2 linked regions of the Homo sapiens genome follow. The protein of the gene in region 1 interacts with the protein of each later gene in a biochemical or structural test. Each region holds a gene or a part of one and is shown on either strand. Other genes may lie near its edges.

Evidence for each region.
Region 2: the proteins of ATL1 (region 1) and SPAST form a complex in vitro, tested with the Homo sapiens proteins (one study listed by IntAct).

What each region holds. Positions count from the first base shown.
Region 1 is NC_000014.9:50,581,891-50,593,015, forward strand, and holds part of ATL1 (atlastin-1), read left to right. Parts: intron 1-5,940; coding exon 5,941-6,188; intron 6,189-9,050; coding exon 9,051-9,185; intron 9,186-9,644; coding exon 9,645-9,749; intron 9,750-11,125.
Region 2 is NC_000002.12:32,057,221-32,068,244, forward strand, and holds the start of SPAST (spastin), read left to right. Parts: upstream 1-6,335; 5' UTR 6,336-6,611; coding exon 6,612-7,026; intron 7,027-11,024. UniProt on the Homo sapiens protein: ATP-dependent microtubule severing protein that specifically recognizes and cuts microtubules that are polyglutamylated.

The sequences.
Region 1 (11,125 bases):
AAGAAAATTCCTAGAAAGATAGAATGAACTAGAAGTATTTCAAGAACTATCAAGCTTTATTGGTACTAATATCACAATAGCAATAATAACTATTAAAGAAATTGAAATGGCCAGTCGCGGTGGCTCATGACTGTAATCCCAGCACTTTGGGAGGCCGAGGCGGGCGGATCACTTGAGGTCAGGAGTTTGAGACCAGCCTGGCCAACATGGTGAAACCCCATCTCTACTAAAAATACAAAAAATTAGCCGGGCATGGTGGCACGTGCCTGTAGTTCCAGATACTTGGGAGGCTGAGGCAGAATTGCTTAAACCCGGGAGGCAGAGGTTGCAGTGAGCCGAGATCGCGCCACTGCACTCTAGCCTGGGTGACAGAGTGAGTCTCCATCTCAACAAAAGAAATTTAAATGACAGTTAAAAATCATCTCACAAAGAAAACACCAGGTTCACAAAGTTTTACAGGTGAGTTCTATCAAAATTTCAAAGAACCGTTCACTCCAATCTTTTATTACAAACTTTTCTCTTTTTTTTTTTTTCCATAAGACGGAGTCTCACTCTGTCACCCAGGCTGGCGTGCAGTGGTGTGATCTCAGCTCACTGCAACCTCTGCCTTGTGGGTTCAAGTGATTCTCCTGCCTCAGCCTCTCAAGTAGTTGGGACTACAGGCACGCACCACCATGCCTAGATAATTTTTGTGTTGTTGTTTTTTTTTTTTTTTAGTAGAGACGGGGTTTCACCATCTTGGCCAGGTTGGTCTCAAACTCTTGACCTCAAATGATCCACCCGCCTCGGCCTCCCAAAGTGCTGGGATTACAAGTGTAAGCCACCATGCCCAGCTGCTAATTCATTTTATAAAGCTTGCATAACTTATATAATAAAACCACCCAAGGACAAAATAAGAAAGGAAAGTCATAGGCAACTCATTTATGAATATACATGCACAATTCCTAAACAAAATCTTAGCAAACTGAATCCAACATTATACTATACCCTGAGACTATTAGGTTTATATAAAAAGTGCAAATATATATTATTTGCTACACTGATATGTTGGATGTGAAAAGCTATATGATCACCTCAATAGATGCAGAAGAGATTATTTGATAAAATTCATTATTTGTTTGTGATTTTTAGAAACCCTTAGTAAACTACACATAGAATTTCCTTCATCTGATATGATAAAATGTATCTACCAAACCAAGCCCAACAAAACTGTAACAAAAGTAACCCCAATAGGCAAATATTGGAGACATTCCCTTTAAAATCAGGAAGTTATGCCTACTGAAATCAAAAGTTATGCCCATTATCACCTCTTCTATTCAACATTGCCTTGAATGTCTAATAAGTTAAGAAAAAGAAAAGACATACATAAAGATTGAAAAGTTGGAAACTGTCATTATTTGAAAATTGTATTTCTGTTTCTACATTTAAAAAACCCAAAAGTATCTACATAAATTTTACAGGAAATAATAAAGTTTAGTAAATGCTTCAATATGAGACCAATGCATTAAAGCTAATTATAGTTCTTTATCCAAACAACAACTAGAAAGTATAACTAAAACAACAACAAATAAACCAGTCATAGTTAGCAACAAAAACTACAGTGCACCTGGGACTAAATGTAATAAACCTCTTCCTACTCCCCCAAATTATAAAAACATTACCAAAGGGAATTAAAGACCAAACATAGATGGAGAGCTAGATCATGTTAATGTATTAGAAGACTTAATAGCATGAAGGTACTGATTCATTTCAAACTGATCTATAAATGTAACTTCAGTAAAGAGTTCAACTAACAGATTGATTTTAATATTTATATGGAAAGGGTTAAAATAGCCAAGACCAATAATAATTAGAAGGATAGGAGGTGCTTGCCATATTATATACAGTAACTTTTTATGAAGCTATTTTGAATAGGATAGTGTAAAATTGGTGCTGGTGTAGAGAAATTGATGAATGGATCAGAACTGAGAGCTCAGAAATGAGTCAGTGTGTATGTGGGGGTGTGTGTTTGTGTAAAACTCTTACTTATGACAAAGATCTCATGGCAGACCACTTGAGGAAAGAAGGGGCTTTGACAGAGCTCTGAAAAAATTTGTTTCTCATATTTAAAAAAGAAATGGCTTTTATCTTCCACCCTACAAATAACAACTTCTGATGGACTAGGAACTTAAGTATCAAAAGCAAACTTTAAAACATAGAAAAGTCTGGGCACCGTGGTTCATCCCTGTAATGCCAGCACTTTGGGAGGCCAAGGCACGTGGATCACTTGAGTCCAGGAATTTGAGACCAGCCTGAGCAACATGGTGAGACCCCATCTCTACAAAAAATACAGAAATTAGTGGGACTTGGTGGTTGTGTGTGCCTGTAGTCCCATCTACTCGGGAGGTTGAGGTGGGAGGATCGATTGAGCTCAGGAAGCAGAGGTTGCAGTGAGCTGAGCTCACACCACTGCACTCTGCCTGGGTAACAGAGTGAGACCCTGTCTCAAAAAACAACAAACAAATAAACTTAGAAGAATATATGTGACTATTGGCCGGGCGCGGTGGCTCACGCCTGTAATCCCAGCACTTTGGGAGGCCGAGGCGGGCAGATCACGAGGTCAGGAGATCGAGACCATCCTGGCTAACATGGTGAAACCTTGTCTCTACTAAAAATAAAAAAATAAAAAATAAAAAATGCGAGGTGGCGGGCACCTGTAGTCCCAGCTATTCAGGAGGCTGAAGCAGGAGAATGGCGTGAACCCGGGAGGCGGAGCTTGCAGTGAGCCGAGATCGCGCCACTGCACTCCAGCCTGGGCGACAGAACGAGACTCTGTCTCAAAAAAATAAATAAATAAATAAAAAATAAAATAAAATAAAATAGAATATATATGACTATCTTTCAGATCTTGTATGTGGAATCATTTCTTAAACATGGTATACAAAATGTTAACCATAAAAGAAAATATTAATAAAATCTATTACATTAAAATTAAGAATGCCTTTTCATCAATTATAGCTTAAGGAAAATGAAAAGGCAAACTCTTAGAAACTAGAAGACTCTTGCTATGCATGTAACTAACAAAGGGATAGCATTCAAAATACATAAAGAACTACAAATCAGTAAGAAAAAGACAAACTACCTAATAGAAAAACGGATAAAAGGAGTACTTATCTTATTAGCAATTAGAGAAATGTATATCAAGACCACAGTGAGATAACATTTTATACCTCTGCAACTGACAAAAACAAAGTCAGATAAAACCAAGTGTTAGAAAGGATATGGATCAATAGGATGTTAAATTGCTGGCGGAAGTGAAACATTTATATAGCCACTTAGAAAAAGACAATTTTGCTCCATGTTTTAAAGTTGAATATTTGAAAAACTTACAACCCAGAAATTCCATTTCTATGTGCATTCTCCAGTACCTTTTGCATATGTGTAGTTTGTTGCAAACAATTATTTCAGTCTATAGAAAGTTATGATCTAGTTTTCTGCCCCAAAGCTGTTTCTCTATCCAAAATATTATGTCTAGCTTGGGTCTGTGATTCACATTTGTGTGCTCAGATCATAATTAAATCATAGGCAAGGAGCGTCATCAAATAAAATATGTATTTGCTATTCTCAAAAAGGGCCTTTGTACTGAGACTGAAATTAGGTGGTAGGTAGGACTGTAATCAGACATGAATAGATAATAGTATTAATAACAGTCACCATTCATTAAGCATGTACTATTTGTCAGATTCTTCAATCTTTATTTAATGGAAATTACTTTGTTAAGTCTTCACAAAGGCTTTCTGATATGGGTACCATTATGAATCTTTTTAAAATGGAGCATAGTGAGCCATTGGGAAGCTAAATAATTTCCACAACTTTATGTTGTAAATTGTAAGGCTGGGATTTAAACAAAGGCTCTCTGACTCCAGCACCTGTGAAATGGCAATATAGAAGCTATTATCTTTCAGATAAAAAGTCAACTTTTCTTAACTTTGCAGAGAGAACAACTCTGATTCGTGGCTATAGGCAATGGTCTGTTGTCTCTAGATGCTTTGTATGATTGTTCAGAAAGTAGTGGTGTATACTTATCTCTACTCATGCAAAACTAAAATTATATATTTTCAGTATTTCAATAGCATTATTTTATAGATGAACAGCAATAAAGTTATCAATGTGATATATATATATCAATGTGATCTGAAGACTTATTTAAAATTATGCCAAGAGATGATTGCCTTGCTTTTATCTAGTTATAAAACTTCTTATCAAATAGACATCATGAAGAATGTCTACCTAAAGATATTTTCAAAAATTTAGATAAAAGATTATTTAAGAGTCCAGTTTGTTTCAAAATTATTATCATTGTCTTAGTCACTCTGGGCTGCTGTAACAGAAAATCATAGACTGGGGTGGCTTAAACAACAAACATTTATTTCTCACAGTTCTGGCAGCTGGATGAGATGAGACTGCCAGCAGGGCTGGGTTTTTTTGTAAGGGTCTTCCTCCTGGTTCATAGACTGCTTTCTTCGTGTATCCTCATAATTCAGAGAAAAGGGGCTCTGGTTCCTTAATTTTCTTATAAGGGAACTAACTCTATGATGGGAGACCCTCGTAACTTAATCTAAGCATAATCTAAGGCCTCCCAAAGGCCTCATCTCTAACATTGGGGATTAAGGTTTCTACAATAGCAATTATTGAGGGTTTCTTTGAGGCTAGGTCATATATCTGATCTGAGGAATTAATTGGTGTATGTATAGACTTTCTGTTCTTATGATATAAAGCAAACGAGCCTATGTATGTGTTGTCCAAAAGTTATTTGATTGCTACCAAAGAGGCAGAATTTTTTTTTTTTTATTGTAGTAGAAAGATCTGGGATGAAAGTTTTGACTCTTGCAATCTAATCCCAGTTTGGCAGTTACCGTCCATGTGAACTTGGACCTGTAATCTGTCACTTTCTAATAGTTGTGCTCTTGGGAAATTTAATTAGATTCTTAATTTTCTCATGTGTCAAAAATACAGATAATAATAAATACCGTACTGGAACATTACAAAGATTAAATAAATAACATGAGAAAGATATAGAAATCCTATATGAGGAAGTCTACCATTTCCTTCCTTCTAAATTCCATTTCCATCTCTTGGGCAAGGTCAGTCACATCTTTGGCTTTAATTTCCTCATCTATAATAATACCAATAGCATGCTTGAGAATCTGTGATTCTGAGCCCTTCTAGGTATTTCTTCCTATATATGTTCAGCTTTAAAAAGTATTGCAAGGATCCTTTATGTAAATAAGCTATTTCTAGGGGATAAAGAAAGTGTGAACTACAACCATTTTATTCCTCTGCTCCAAAAGTAGAGTGCTTTGCTTTGATTTTCTTTCTGACTCAGCAGACAGAGACATCTGCACTGACTTAGAGTTTTCTTGAAAAATTTTTTTGATTCAGTCATATGATCAGAAAGAACAAATGTAAGTCCTCCTGGGATATAGTGTGAATGACATTAAAATATGTCATTAAAACAAACATTTCTTTTCTTTCTTTCTTTTTTTCTTTTTCTTTTTTGAGACAGGGTCTCCCTCTATTGTCCAGGCTGGAGTGCAGTGGCACAATCATATCTCACTGTAGCCTTGACCTCCTGGGCTCAAGTGATCCTCCCACCCCCGCCTCCTGAGAGCTGGGACCACAGGCACGTGCTACCACACCTGACGAATTTTAAAATTTTTTGTATAGACAGGATCTCACTATGTTGCCCAGGGTGCTCTTGACTCCTGGGCTCAAGCGATCCTCCCACCTCAGCCTCCCAAGGTGCTAGGATTACAGGCATGAGCCACTGCACCCAGCATAAAATGAGCATTTATAATTCCAGTATGCTCCTGTGTCGGATGTTTGAGAGTTAAGAGGTACATATACATTTCTTGGCACTTTGAGATGATTAGCTGAACCAGTCACTGCTCTGTTCAACAGGTGGATTTTCGGAAAAGACATATGAATGGAGCTCAGAAGAGGAGGAGCCAGTGAAAAAGGCAGGACCAGTCCAAGTCCTCATTGTCAAAGATGACCATTCCTTTGAGTTAGATGAAACTGCATTAAATCGGATCCTTCTCTCGGAGGCTGTCAGAGACAAGGAGGTTGTTGCTGTATCTGTTGCTGGAGCATTTAGAAAAGGAAAATCATTCCTGATGGACTTCATGTTGAGATACATGTACAACCAGGTATGCAGGAAGTACTTTAAAAAGTTTTCTTTCTTCTGTGCTTCTGTCACTTCATGTTTTTATTTCATGGTGTTCAAAATTTTCATTTCTATTATTATGTACCCTATATATGAACCAGCTAAAGAAATGCTGTGGTGTAACCATTCCAACCTCAGTGCTTTGGGGACCAAACTACACAGACCAATTTTCTCTGAAGCTGCTTTGCTGCATTTCCCTTAGAATATAACTTATATTTTTATTCTTTTAAAAATAGGCACATAATATTCTGATTATAGACTTAAATGTTATAGTGTTTAAAATGTCACATAATTTTTGTATTGTAATCACTTTTTTCCAACATTTAGTATGAAATATTTCAAGCATATAGCAAAGTTAAAAAAATTTTATACTAAACATCTTGGTATCCACCACCCAGATTCTACCATTAACATTAGTATTCCTGCTTTATCACTTATGACTCCATCTATTCATCCCTCTTTCCAGCCATCACTCCAAGTTATTCTTTGATGCATTTGAAAATAAATTGCTGGCCGGGCACTGTGGCTCACGCCTGTAATCCCAGCACTTTGGGAGGCCGAGGTGGGTGGATCACGAGGTCAAGAGATCAATACCATCCTGGCCAACATGGTGAAACCCTGTCTCTACTAAAAAAAAACACACAAAAATTAGCTGGGTATGTTTTCCTTGTCCTTCAAGGTTATTTTTCAGGCTTAGGATTTTTATGAATATCTCAATGTAGATCATTGACTCAGAGTGAATGTTATGGAAATGTTATTATGCTAATTAATAATAATCACAATTTATTCATTGAAGTATGCATCCCAAGACATTTTTCCAGGTAATACCTTATTGGAAAAATTTCAATTTCTACCTCAATAGTAATTATTTATTGACTACCTGCTAAATGTTCTAGATTGTGCTAGGCACTATGGTGGATACCAAAGAAAACATACCATAGATTTTGCACTTAGGCATCTCATGGTTTGGCCAAGGAGACAGAATAACAATAGGTGAAATATTTAGAGCATCATTACATGGTGATATGGTGACAGATATATTTTTTCTTTTCTTTCTTTCTTTTTTTTTTTTTTTTTTTTTGATACAGAGTTTCACTCTTGTTACCCAGGCTGGAATGCAGTGGCGCAATCTTGGTTCACTGCAACCTCTGCCTCCCGGGTTCAAGGATTCTCCTGCCTCAGCCTCCCAAGTAGCTGGGATTACAAGCATGCGCCACCACATCTGGATAATTTTTTGTATTTTTAGTAGAGACAGGGTTTCACTATGTTGACCAGGCTGGTCTCAAACTCCTAACCTTGTGATCCACCTGCCTCGGCCTCCCAAAGTGCTGAGATTACAGACATGAGCCACCATGCCCAGCCTGATCGACGTATTTCTAAGTGTAGTTCAGGGAAGGGCATATTGTAGGCAAAAGTAACTGGAGAAAGCTTCATAGAGATATTGGAAGTTAGAATAGATTTTGAAGATGTGTGGATCTGGACCAGAAAAGGAAGAATGGACATTCTGGACTATGAGGAATAAGTATAATATATGTATTAAACAGAGTGTACACCTTCTTCCCTAGAGTGGAAATTAAGTATTGGAGATGAAGAAGAAATAAGATTGAATAGGTTATTGAGCCAGATAATAGAACAAATTCACAGAAGAACCAAAGCTCTTGATAACGGTCTAAAATGCCTTTTAGAACAAGATAGGATATAATTAAATACATTTTTCTTTAAATTAGTTTATGTAGATTTTTTATCAGTCCAAGTAGTCCTCTCCCAAATTCCTCTGCATTCGTTACTGTAAGGTTTTAGATTGGACAATTATCTAATGAGATCTTCCAAAAACTAATAACTTATTCTCTGTAACAGATATCAAAATGGGGGTAACTACTATCAACCAAGGTCACCAATTACTGACTTACTAAATCTATGGGATATTTTCCATGCCTTATCCAACTTGATCTTCAGCCTTTAAACAATTGATAATTTTTCCTATTCTGTCTTCCTTTGGCTTCTCAAACTCCACTTGCATCAGTACTTGTCTATTCCTTCCTGCTGTCCTGGCCCTGGTCAGACCTTCAATCATATTTTTGACCTTTATTATAGCACCCCCACCTTTATCTTTTCTAGCTATCATTTCCCTTCCCTACTAACTAGCCCTACCTACTTCTAGAATAGTATCTTTCTACCACAACTATGATGATAATTCATCTCTGCTTCTTCATAACTTTCCGTCGCCTGCAGGATAAAATCTGACTCCCTTAAGGACCTTACAAGGTCTTTCAGAATCTGGCTGTCTGTCCAGCCTCTTCCTGCTACTTGCTTCCTCCTCCCACAAAACCAAAGCATAATATGCTCCCTACTTCCTTCCTTTCTGCCTGCCTGCCTGCTTGCCTTCCTTTCTGGAATGCCTTCTCCAAATTTGCTTCCCTGGAAAATTCCTAAATATTTTTCAAGTCTTAGCTCAAACATCCTATGTGGTCTTGCCTGACCAATGGTTAGTTATTTATTTTCTATGCTACCATTTATGCATTATATATACTTCCATTTTGGCATGCATTTATTGCATCATAATGGTTTGTTTGCATGTCTGTCTCGCTGTTAGGCTGTGAATTTCCTCTGGTCTGCAATGATATCTTTTCATTTTTATATCCCCAGGACATATCAAAAATGTGGCAGATGGTTGCTCCTCTGTAATTATTTTTTGGATGAATAAAGTGATGGTATCAATGCAATAGATGTGCATATGTTGTTTCCTTTTAACTCGAATTGGAGAGGGATAAGAATCAGAATGAATGAATGGAAAAAACTATATACACATATCAAGTTCCATATCATAGACTTTATCATTTTATAGGAATCAGTTGATTGGGTTGGAGACTACAATGAACCATTGACTGGTTTTTCATGGAGAGGTGGATCTGAGCGAGAGACCACAGGAATTCAGATATGGAGTGAAATCTTCCTTATCAATAAACCTGATGGTAAAAAGGTATGATGCTAACTTCCTAAATAAAATTGAGTTTTCACTTATAACAGTTACTACTTTTTAGGATCCTTGAAGTTGCACTTTTGAAAATTAATTTTGACCATTTGACATGAAGCTTAAAGTGGGGTAGCATCCTATAGCATGATCTTTGTTTCCCTTTCTTGTGATCAGAGTAGGCGAAATTATAACGATGATAGAACAGCAGATCAGCAAGTAACATCTGTATTTTGTTTCACTGCTACATAAAGTTTCTGTTACGTTGGATTACTAGTAAAAATTACTTATAATAGTAATCAGCTGTTAATATTTTTATTTTCTGTGGCATTCATGGCATGTGTAAGAAATTATCTAAAATAGTATTGATTAATAATGGTTTGCTTTAGTTCTTATATTAATATTATGGTAACCCTAATGACCTAGATGTTCTATAAAATATCAATAATGTACTCTTCTTGCCTGTAGGTTGCAGTGTTATTGATGGATACTCAGGGAACCTTTGATAGTCAGTCAACTTTGAGAGATTCAGCCACAGTATTTGCCCTTAGCACAATGATCAGCTCAATACAGGTATGAAATAAGCCCATTTTGATGATGTTTCTTTAACTAAAAATTATGAGTATATGTGTTTCTACATACATGTTATAATTAGATAAACAACAGAAATTGGGAATCATATATATTGTTTGACTCAATTAGCATACGAGTTCTCGTGATTTCTGTGAGAGTGGAATTGTTTTTGTTACTGTAGTTTAATTACTGACAAACTTTCAAATTGACTGCTTTGGTTAGAAAAGGTCATATTATCTTATTGGGATTTTTGTTGTTGTTGTTTAAAGCCTACAATAAACTCAGTAACATAAATCTTATATGCGTATACATTGAGACCATCTATTGTAAGTTATGTTTAATGAAACAGTGTTTATAAATATAAATTTTGTTCTACATAGCCAGTAGAAACATTTCTAAATGTAAAAACATTTACATGTGTTCATAGCTTTTAAAAACACCTTAATGTACATTTAGGAAAGTAAATAGCTTATATATAAAATTTATCTTTCTTTCCTTTCCTTTTTTCTTTCACTTTTTTAAAAGTCTTATTTTTGAGGTTATTGTGGGCTTTCTAAATTGTCCTGAAAATCCTTGTAGAGTTTTATTAGAACCATAGAATCCATAGCATAAAAGATTTTAAGACTATTTTTAGATATTTTCAATCCACTGGCAAAAGCAAAAAGAGAGTGGCCAAGGAACAGGGCAGATCAATAAAAAAAGGTAAGATAGCTTAAAAAGGCAGAAAAGGCAAAGCAGTTAGGATGAGTGAGTCAAGACTAAAATTACAAGCAAGCATAGAGAATGGAGCTAGTGAACCAGCAACAAGGGCGTCATATATGATTAGGACAACCAAGACAGGGTAAACAGAAGGAGGAAGGAAGACTGAATTTATTAAATAAAGGACTTTAAAGTAAAAGTCATAAAAAAAAAAGTCATGGTTATAACCTACTTAATCAACTTTTAAAAATTAACTTTTCTTTCAGTTGACAAATAAAAATTATATATATTGGCCAGGCACGGTGGCTCACGCCTGTAATCCCAGCACTTTGGGAGGCCGAGGCGGGCGGATCACGAGGTCAGGAGATCGAGACCATCCTGGCTAACACGGTGAAACCCCGTCTCTACTAAAAATACAAAAAATTAGCCGGGCATGGTGGCAGGCGCCTGTAGTCCCAGCTACTCGGGAGGCTGAGGCAGGAGAATGGCGTGAACCCAGGAGGCAGAGCACTTGCAGTGAGCCGAGATTGCGCCACTGCACTCCAACCTGGGTGACAGGGCGAGACTCCCGTCTCAAAAAAAAAAAAAAAAATATATATATATATATATGTGTGTGTGTGTGTGTGTAAATTATATATATATGTGTGTACATATATCTGTATATATATAATGTACAA
Region 2 (11,024 bases), on another chromosome or scaffold:
GTGTTCCTGGCTACTCAGGAGGCTGAGGTGGAAGGATCGCTTGAGCCCGAGAGGTTGAGGGTGCAGTGAGCCATGATCTTGCCATTGCACTCTACACTCTAGTCTGGGTGACAGAGTGAGACTCTGTCTTGGGGGAAAACAAAAGAGATGATAATGCTTAACTGAAGTAGCAATATTTTAAAAAGGCACTAAAAGTTCATCTGCTTAGTTCAGAATATGGGTTCGATAAATATTAGCAAGTAGTAGTAGTCATCATCATCACTGTCACTGCTGTTCTCTCCTTAAACTTAAGCATGTTTTTTGTTTTTTTGAGACAGTGTCTCACTCTGTCACCCAAGCTGGAGTTCAGTGGTGTGATCTTGGCTCACTCCAACCTCTGCCTCCCAGGTTCAAGTGATTCTCCTGTCTCACCCTCCCAAGTAGCTGGGACCACAGACACGTACCACAACCACACCCAGCTAATTTTTCGTATTTTTGGTAGAGGTGGGGTTTCACCATGTTGGCCAGGCTGGTCTTGAACTCCTGACCTCAAGTGATCCACCTGTCTCGGCCTCCCAAAGTGCTGGGATTACAGGCGTTAGCCACAGCATCCAGCCTTAAGCATGTTAATTAAGTTTTTATAATTCAGCAAAATGGTTGGAAAATGCTGTCTTAAATGAGATGCTTAAGCTGCCGTCTGAACATGAGGTAGAAGGAAATTCTACACATAATCATTGTGCTAAATTACTTGCAAAGATGGCCACAACAATTCCTCCTATCCTCATATATATGCCCCTTTGCAATGTGACTTTGCTACTTCTCTATCAAGATGTGGAGCTTATTTTCCCATATATTGCACTAGAGTTGGCCTTCTGACTTGCTTTGACAATGGAATGTAGTACAAATGACACTGTGCAACTTTGGATTTTAGGTTTCGAGAGAACTTACACCTTCCACTCACACTCTCTTGGAAACCAGATGCAATGTAAAGAAGTCAGGGCTATCCTGCTAGAGACATATGTCCCAGCTAATAGCCACAATCAACCTCTGAACATATGAATGAGGCTAGCTAGGCCATACAGCCATTCGGTCAAGCCATCAGATGACTACATCCACAGGAATGATCCACAGGCAAGGCCATCAGAAGAACCATCCAGCTGAACTTACCCCAAATTGCTGAGTCACAAAGTTGTGTGTAAATAAATGTCTGCTATCTTAAGCCAGTGAGTTTTGGAGTGGTATATTACATAGCATCAGAAATCTAACACAATCATTATGTTTGAATCATTTTTCAAATTTCTCATATTTATTAAATGAGTACCATAAGCAAGGTGTCAGGCTGGATGCAAAAAGTGAGGCAAAATGTATAAAGTGTGACCACTGCCTTCAGTAAGTTTACAATCTATATCAAGAGGTGATGAAGTGTTTAAATAATCATCCTGCAGGGCAATATAGTATAAGAGCCACAGAGTAACACAACCATATTGTCATAACAACTGAAAAACAAGATCATTTCTGCTGGAGGTGATAATGGAATAATTTATCAAGAATATAACAGAGCTGGACGCGGTGGCTCACACCTGTAATCCCAGCACTTTGGGAGGCCAAGGAAGGTGGATCACAAGGTCAGGAGTTCGAGACCATCCTGGCTAACACGATGAACCCGTCTCTACTAAAAATACAAGAAATTAGCCGGGCGTGGTGGCACGCGTCTGTAGTCGCAGCTACTCAGGAGGCTGAGGCAGGAGAACCACTTGAACATGGGAAGCAGAGGTTGCATTGAGCTGAGATCGTGCCATGGCACTCCAGCCTGGGTGACAGAGTGAGACTCAGTCTCAAAAAAAAAAAAAAAAAAAAAAATATAACATTAGAGGTAAGTCTTGAAGGACTTTGACAGTGGAAGTAGGAGGCGAGGCCATTCTAAGTGAATGAAAAATGACAGGAGAGTAATTGTAGTCCTGGAAAAGAGCAAAGTAGGTACAGACCAACAGTCTATATTAGCTAGAGTATAGTGAAAGTGCAGAGGAAATGTCGGAGAACCATTCTTTATTCAAAAACTATCTTCCTCATGGCCAAGCATAGTGGCTCATGCCTGTAATCCCAGCATTTTGGGAGGTCAAGGTGAGTGGATCACTTGAGCTCAGGAATTCAAGACCATCTGGGGCAACATAGTGAGACCTCATCTCAACTAAAAAACAAAAAATTCAGACAGATGCAGTGGCTCACACCTGTAATCCCAGAACTTTGGTAGGCTGAGGCGGGCGGATCACGAGGTCAGGAGATCAAGACCCTCCTGGACAACATGGAGAAACCCCATCTCTATTAAAAATACAAAATTAGCTGGGCATGGTGGCACATCCCTGTAATCCCAGCTACTCGGGAGGCTGAGGCAGGAGAATCGCTTGAACCAGGGAGTCGGAGGTTGCAGTGAGCCGAGATCGCACCACTGCACTCCAGTCTGGCGACAGAGCGAGACTCCATCTTAAAAAATAAATAAATTTTAAAAAAAACTACCCCAGCATGGTGGTGCATGCCTGTAGTCCCAGTTACTCAGGAGGCTGAGGCAAGAGGGTGGTTTGAGCCAGGGAGGTCAAGGCTGCAGTGAGCTCTGATGGCGCCACTGTACTCCAGCTTGGGTGACAGAGTGAGACCTTGTCTCAAAAACAAAAACAAAAACAAAAAACCAACAAATCTCCTTGTTAGTATCATGGTGAGTAAAAAATAAAATAAAAATAGAAATAAACTGAACATGGTGGCTCATGCCTGTAATCCTAGCACTTTGGAAGGCTGAAGTGGGAGGATTGCTTGAGGGCTGGAGTTCAAAACTGGCTTGGGCAACACGGTGAGAGAGACCTTGTCTCTACAAAAGAACTTTTAAAACAAAAAATAGATAATTTAAAAAAATTAAAAAAAACAAAAAATAAAAAAATAATCAAGTATCAACTTGATTCCAGGCACTGCTTACTACTCTAGTGTTATACTGTAGATGTGGAAGCTGAGTAACTCATCCAAGATCACCGAAAGTGATGGAACACAGATCTAAATGCAACCAGTCTGACTCCAGGACCATTTAACCATTCTACTATTGGGCCCTATCTTGGCTAAGTTAGAAAGTAAGTTACTTTCTTTAGTGGTAAAGACTGGAGGGATAACAGGGAAGATAGTTATTTAAGAAAAAAAACTGGCATCAAACTAAATATCCATCAATAGTTGAACAGTAAAATAGGTTGTGGTAAATTCATATAATGGAATACTATATAGCAGTGAAAATGTACCACAGTTATAGAAATCAACAGGGAGGAATTTCAACACTTAATTATTAAGTAGGTAGCCAGGCATAGCGGTTTATGCCTGTAATCCCAGCACTTTGGGAGACCAAGACAGGAGGATTACTTGAGCCCAGGGGTTCGAGATCAACCTGGGCAACAGTGAGACTCCATCTCTATTTTCTTAAAATAAAATAAATGAAATTTTAAAAATTTTGAGGAGGGAAAGCAAACAAGGGATACTTGAAATATGATTACATTTCCATAAAGTCAAAGTGAGGCAAAATCATACAAGACATTGTTTAGAAATACATAAATACACTGCAAACTAAAAATGAGACACTAGAATGATTAATATAAAATTCAGGATAGTGGCTTCCTCTAGAGGAAGAGACAAGACATTGAGATTAGGGAGGAGCTCACAGAGTGCTTCGAGGAGTTGGTTACATTCATTTTTCTTAAATGGAATGCTGCTTATTATTTTTCTTTAAATTGTGCATTTAAGTAACACACTTCTTGTTTATATGATATATGTATAAATGTAATTTTTTTTTTTGAGATGGAGTTTCGCTCTTGTTGCCCAGGCTGGAGTGCAATGGCACTATCTTGGCTCACTGCAACCTCCACTTCCTGGGTTCAAGTGATTCTCCTGCCTCAGCCTCCCGAGTAGCTGGGATTACAGGCATGCGCCACCATGCCCGGCTAGTTTTGTATTTTTAATAGAGAAAGGGTTTCTCCATGTTGGTCAGGCTGGTCTCGAACTCCCGACCTCAGGTGATCCGCCTGCCTTGGCCTCCCAAAGTGTTGGGATTACAGGTGTGAGCCACCGTGCCAGGCCCTGAATCAGATTTAAAAGAGGGCATTTCATTAAAAAAAATTTTTTGTTGTTTGCTTTTGAGACAGAGTCTCGCTCTGTCGCCCAGGCTGCAGTGCATTGGCATGATCTTGGCTCACCGCGGCCTCAGCCTCCCAGGTTCAAGTGATTCTCCTGCCTCAGCCTCGCACTAGTTGAGATTACAGGAATGCACCACCACCACAGGAATGCACCTGTCTAACTTTTGTATTTTTAGTATAGAGGGAGTTTTGCCATGTTAGCCAGGCTGCTCTTGAACTCCTGACCTCCGGTGATCTGCTCGCCTCGGCTCCCAAAGTTCTGGGATTACAGGCGTGAGCCACCACACCCGGCCGAAAGAGGGCATTTCAGAATGAGGGTCTAGCATAAGCACAGAGAAGGGGGAGCAATAAGAGGGAAACAGGGAGTAGGTCATTTTTGCAATAGCCTGTGACATTTGTAGGGCAGTACTGGCGGGGAATAATTAAGTAAAATTGGCTGGTGCTGTGGCTCATGCCTGTAATCCCAGCACTTTGGGAGGCCGAGGCGGGCAGGTTGCTTGAGCCCAGGAATTCAAGACCAACCTGGGAAACATAGCAAGACCCTGTCTCAACAAAAAAGTAAAAAAATTAGCTGGGGGCGCGATGGGGTGGCTCATGCCTGTAATCCCAACACTTTGGAAGGCTGAGGCAGGCGGATTGCTTGAGCCCAGGAGTTGGAGACCAGCCTGGGCAACATGGTGAAACCCTGGCTCTATAAAGAATACAAAAATTAGTCGGGCCCAGTGGCGTGTGCCTGTGATCCCAGCTACTCGGGAGGCTGAGGTGGAAGGATCACCTGAGCCAGGGAGGTGGAGGTTGCAGTGAGTCATGTTGTTTGCGCCACTGCACTCCAGCCTGGGCAATGGAGTGAAACCCTGTCCAAAAAATAAAAAAATAAAGCTGTGGCAGAATGTGGAGATTCTTGGAAGCTGGAAGCTCTCATGGGGCATTTGGAAACCTCACATTGTAAATAACGGAGTCTTTTTATCAGTTTGGCTTCCTTAGTTTTAGGAAACAAGAAATAATTATGGCTAACTCAAGTAAAAAGAGAAAGAGAAGAGAAAAAAGACGTGGAGATAGAGAGAGAGGGAGAGAGAGGAAAAGACGAAAGGAAGGAAGGGGGAAAGGAGAGAGGAAGAGAGAAACAGAGAAACAGACTGATTAGTGTATTGGATAGATTACATAACCAAGTGACCAGTCAGGAACCCAGCAGCTCTGGGGGAGCTCAATGTGATGCATTGATAAACCCGCTCTTAAGAGCACTCGTTTCCAGTTACTTTCTATTCGGTGGGTCTCCAGCCAAGATTCCAGGTCCCAGGAGAATCTGACTGACCTAGTGTTTGCTTCCGCCTTTGCGGTCTGGGTTCTGTGCTTGCAGCTCATTAGAATACAGGGAGCAGAGACAAGCAGGTAGTTTCCCAAAGGAAGGGATGCTGAGTAGATTAAAAAAAAAGTGTAGATTCTTCAGTAAACTATGGGATGGTAACTATGCAAAACCTAAGATTTCCCTTATTCAAATAAATTATCTTTCATATTAGACATCTAAATATGCACTAATTTAGTTAAACCCCTGGGTTAGTTGATCTCATCACACTGAGCTAACATTTTTGTTGCTGTTGTTTGCAGTGACCTGAAGTTTCTTATCTTCACAATTGCTTTCCTCTCAAATAATTCCCAGATTTTAAATTTTTATTTTATTTTTTCTGGAGACGGAGTCTCGCTCTGTCGCCCAGGCTGGAGTGCAGTGGCGCGATCTCAGCTCACTTGCAGCCTCTGCCTCCCGAGTTCAAGCGATTCTCCGGCCTTAGCCTTCCAACCAGCTGGGACTACAGGCGCGCGCCCCCACGCCCGGCTAATTTAATTCCCAGATTGATATCCATTGCTTCTGAGATGGGCCAATTATCCTTCGGAGAAGACTTAGGTCGCCTGGCAGAAAAAGATGAAAGAAATCTAAGAAAACGACGACACTGAGAGAGGAGCCTAGCGAACCAGCAGAGCGACCCCAAGCCGCAATTCCCCCTTCCGTGGATCGATTACGAAGGCTTCCTGGCAGGAGCTCTCCAGGGCTGCCGACGTGAGCCGAACTGCACATTGGGAACTGTAGTTGAGTGGGAAAGCCGAGAGGCGGGGGCCGCACACGCGTACAGGGGCCCCGGTCAACAAAGACGCGCCGTGCGCGCGCGCGCCGGAGAAAAACACGGGAAGACGTGCGCGTGCGCGGCCGCCGCTGGGAGCCACCAGGCGGCGGAGAGGACAGCGACAGGAAGGGAGGGGCCCGAGCCACCGACTGCAGGAGGAGAAGGGGTTGTGCTCCTGGCCGAGGAAGGAGAAAGGGGCGGGGCCGGCGGGCAGCGTGCGGCAGTGCGGAGCTCCTGAGACCGGCGGGCACACGGGGGTCTGTGGCCCCCGCCGTAGCAGTGGCTGCCGCCGTCGCTTGGTTCCCGTCGGTCTGCGGGAGGCGGGTTATGGCGGCGGCGGCAGTGAGAGCTGTGAATGAATTCTCCGGGTGGACGAGGGAAGAAGAAAGGCTCCGGCGGCGCCAGCAACCCGGTGCCTCCCAGGCCTCCGCCCCCTTGCCTGGCCCCCGCCCCTCCCGCCGCCGGGCCGGCCCCTCCGCCCGAGTCGCCGCATAAGCGGAACCTGTACTATTTCTCCTACCCGCTGTTTGTAGGCTTCGCGCTGCTGCGTTTGGTCGCCTTCCACCTGGGGCTCCTCTTCGTGTGGCTCTGCCAGCGCTTCTCCCGCGCCCTCATGGCAGCCAAGAGGAGCTCCGGGGCCGCGCCAGCACCTGCCTCGGCCTCGGCCCCGGCGCCGGTGCCGGGCGGCGAGGCCGAGCGCGTCCGAGTCTTCCACAAACAGGCCTTCGAGTACATCTCCATTGCCCTGCGCATCGATGAGGATGAGAAAGGTAACTAGGGGGCTGGGGGAGGGGGCGGCGGCGCCGGGAAGAAGGCGGTGGGGTCGCCGGGGGAGGGCAACACCTGCGTCCCTTTTCTGCGGGAGGGGACGGTGCACCCCCGGAATTGATATGCCCCGGGAGACTGCTTTCCCGTAGGTCGGAGCCTCATCTTCTAGTATTCTTAAAACCTCTCCCCTTTCAGGGCACTGTAGCTGTCGACTTTGTTTCAGACACCAGCCTTCCCCCACACTTCTGCATGACCCAGGTCACTATGAGACACCCAGACGTGTTGATGACAGTGACATTTGTCCTAGAGTGACCACACTGATCCTTTCTAGCACTGTGAAGAGTGTGCAGCTTCCTCTGAACCAAGGTTTCCAAAAGGTTTTGATATTGAAGAAGCAGTGCCGCCTTACTGGCTTTTAATGAAAGCAGAGTATTGTAGTGTCAGAAAAAAAGAACAAATGGTGACAATTTTGAAAGAAATAGCTGCATATGACTGCAGTTGAATTTGCATCATTTTAATCAAGATAATCATTTTATCAGTACAACGATTCCTGAATACTTTTTCAATGAAGTTATATTTAGCATAAAACTTTTCCCCCTGTTGCTTTGATTTTAATTAAAACAGTATTCCAAAGTAGCCTTTAATTTCCAAGTTGAAATGTTTGATGAATGGATTGCGTAAACTTAAACATACCACTTTACAGTAAAACCTAAAACAACTATGTATGTTTCTGAATGAAAGCAAGGATACTACATCTTTCGGGTTTCTTTTAAGCTAACTTTTTTTTTTTTTTGAGACGGAATCTCGCCCTGTCGCCCAAGCTGGAGTGCAATGGTGCAGTCTCGGCTCACTGCAACCTCCGACTCCCTGGTTCCAGCGATTCTCCTGCCTCAGCCTCCCGAGTAGCTGGGATTACAGGCACGCACCACCACGCCTGGCTAATTTTTGTATTTTTAGTAGAGTAGGGATTTCACCATGTTGGCCAGGATGGTCTCCATCTCCTGACCTCGTGATCGGGTCGCCTCGGCCTCCCAAAGTGCTGGTAATACAGGCATGAGCCACCGCGCCTGGCCTTAAGCTAACATTTTTTATTATATGTGCCAGGCATTGTGCTATTAGCTTTGCATGTGTTATCTTTTTTCTTTTTAAAAAAAATAGCAACCATCCCAGACCATGAAAAGTGTTATTTAATCCTCACAATAACTTTGTGAGATGAAGGTATTATTGGTATCAGCATTTTAGAGATGAAGAAAATGAGGCCCAAAAGATAAAGGAGGTTATTCCAAACCTGTGCTAATAATGAAATTTCTTTTATGGAAAATAAGTGAAATTAGGAGAAGTCTAACTTTTACAATTCTCCCCTTTTATCCTTACTTCCAGTATGCTGAGATCTTGCTTCTCCCTCTGCCAAAAACACCCACTTTTCTACCACACCTCAATTAGATACTCACTTGCATTGTCCATTAGTGAAAACAGAAACAATCTGCACTTCATTCATAGTGTCTGTCTCTACTGCCAACTCCAAAAACTGTTCTAGAATTTCAATCTTGTTGAAACCTGTTTCCTTTGTGGGGCCTGGGAGTGGGAAGTGGGATATAAGGAAAGAGGCAGTTATTCATTGTTTTGGACAGTAAGGAAAGAGTGACGGTTAAGAGAGGTCAAGGAGGGTGTTAACATTTAAGAATACTATGTGTTTGTAGAAGGAAATTTTTTGTTAACTGCTCCATTCTTTTTTTTTTTTTTTTTTGAGATGGAGTCTCCCTGTGTCACCCAGACTGGAGTGCAGTGGCGTGATCTCAGCTTACTGCAACCTCTGCCTCCCAGACGCAGGCGATTCTCTTGCCTCAGTCTCCCGAGTAGCTGGAACCACAGGTGCGCCCTATCACGGCTGGCTAATTTTTTGTATTTTTAGTAGAGATGGTGTTTCACCATGTTGGCCAGACTGGTCACGAACTCCTGACCTCAGGTGATTCGCCTGCCTCGACCTTCCAAGTGCTTGGATTACAGGTGTCAGCCACTGTGCCCACCCAGCAAGCTCCATTCTTTATCACCTCTTAAGAACATCCAGGATCCCTTGGGGAGAATTAAAACGGTTGCAAAGTTTTAGAATAGAGGAACATGTTTAAGCGTAGATCATTTTTTGGGCCAGTCATGGTGGCTCACGCGTGTAATCCCAACACTTTGGGAGGCCGGGGCGGGTGGATCATGAGGTCAAGAGTTTGAGACCATCCTGGCCAACATGGTGAAATCCCATCTCTACTAAAAATACAAAAATTAGCTGGGCATGGTGACACATGCCTGTAGTCCCAGCTACTCAGGAGGCTGAGGCAAGAGAAGTGCTTGAACCTGGAAGGTGGAGGTTGCAGTGAGCCGAGATCGTGCCACTACACTCCAGCCTGGGCGGCAGAGCAAGACTCCGTCTTGAAAAAAAAAAGTAGGTCATTTTTGGCTGGGCACGGTGGCTCATGCCTGTAATTCCAGCACTTTGGGAGGCTGAGGTGGGTGGATTGCTTGAGCCCAGGAGTTTGAGACCAGCCTGGGCAACATAGTGAAACCCTGTCTTTGTGAAAAATACAAAGATTAGCTAGGCGCAGTGGCAAATGCCTGTAGTCCCAGCTACTTGGGGGGCTGAGGTAGGAGGATCACTTGAGCTCAGGTTGTTCAGGCTGCAATGAGCTGAGATCGTGCAACTGCACTCCGAACTGGGTGACAGGAGTAAAACTGTCTCAAAAAAAAAAAAAAAAAAAACCAAAAAAAAAAAAACTGTTTTAATTGTTTTATTTAGGAAGAGAAAGTCAGAACATGCAAGGAAATTTTTTTTATTTGTTTATTTTTGAGACGGAGTCTCGCTCAGTTGCCCAGGCTGGAGTGCAATGGTATGATCTTGGCTCACTGCAACCTCTGCCTCCCGGATTCAAGCGATTCTCCTGCCTCAGCCTCCTGAGCAGCTGGGATTACAGGTGTATGCCACCACGCCCAGCTAATTTTTGTGTTTTTAGTAGAGATGGGGTTCCACCATGTTGGCCAGGCTGGTTTCGAGCTCCTGACCTCAAGTGAACCGCCCTCCTTGGCCTCCCAAAGTGCTGGGATTACAGGTGTGAGCCGCGGTGACCGACCACAAGGAAATTTTAGTTAACACTGTTGGTTGATGGGAGTTGGGAGGTAGGATAAAAGGAGAAATTAAGGAAAACCTAGGCATGAAAAATAAAAGACCCTGAGCTCTTAGATTTGAAGAAATAGCAGTTCCATGTGAGGAATAAGTGGAAGAAATAGAATTCAGACCTCAGGTCTCAGGCTGGTGACTTAAATCTTTCAGTATCACATATATGAATATATCTATTATACTTAAATCCTCCTAAACATTTTTATTTTTCAGTTGGATATATTAAATATATAAAAATAATTATTTAATTTATTTTAGAGACAGTGTTTCACTCTCTTACCCAAGCTGGAGTGGAATGTGATCATAGCTCACTGCAGCCTCAAGGCTCATTCCTAGGCTTAAGTGATCCTCTTTTTTTTTTTTTTGCTAGAGATAGGATCTTGTTATGTTAGCCAGGCTGGAGAAATTTCAACAATATTTTGAACAATAAAAAAAAAATAAATTAGGTTTTATTGTAAAGTGGTATGTTTAAGTTTACGCCATTCTCCTGCGTAATGCATATTTCATACTCTTCCTACTGATAATGTTTCTGTTCACAACTTTTTCTTTATATTTTGATTTCTTTTCTCTTTTCTTTTTTTTTTTTTTTGAGACAGAGCCTCGCTTTGTCGCCCAGGCTAGAGTGCAGTGGCGCGATCTCGGCTCACTGCTAGCTCCGCCTCCCGGGTTCACGCCATTCTCCTGCCTCAGCTTCCCGAGTAGCTGGGACTACAGGCGCCCGCCACCATGCCCAGCTAATTTTTTGTATTTTTAGTAGAGACGGGGTTTCACTGTGTTAGCCAGGATGGTCTCGATCTCCTGACCTCGTGATCCACCCGCCTCGGCCTCCCAAAGTGC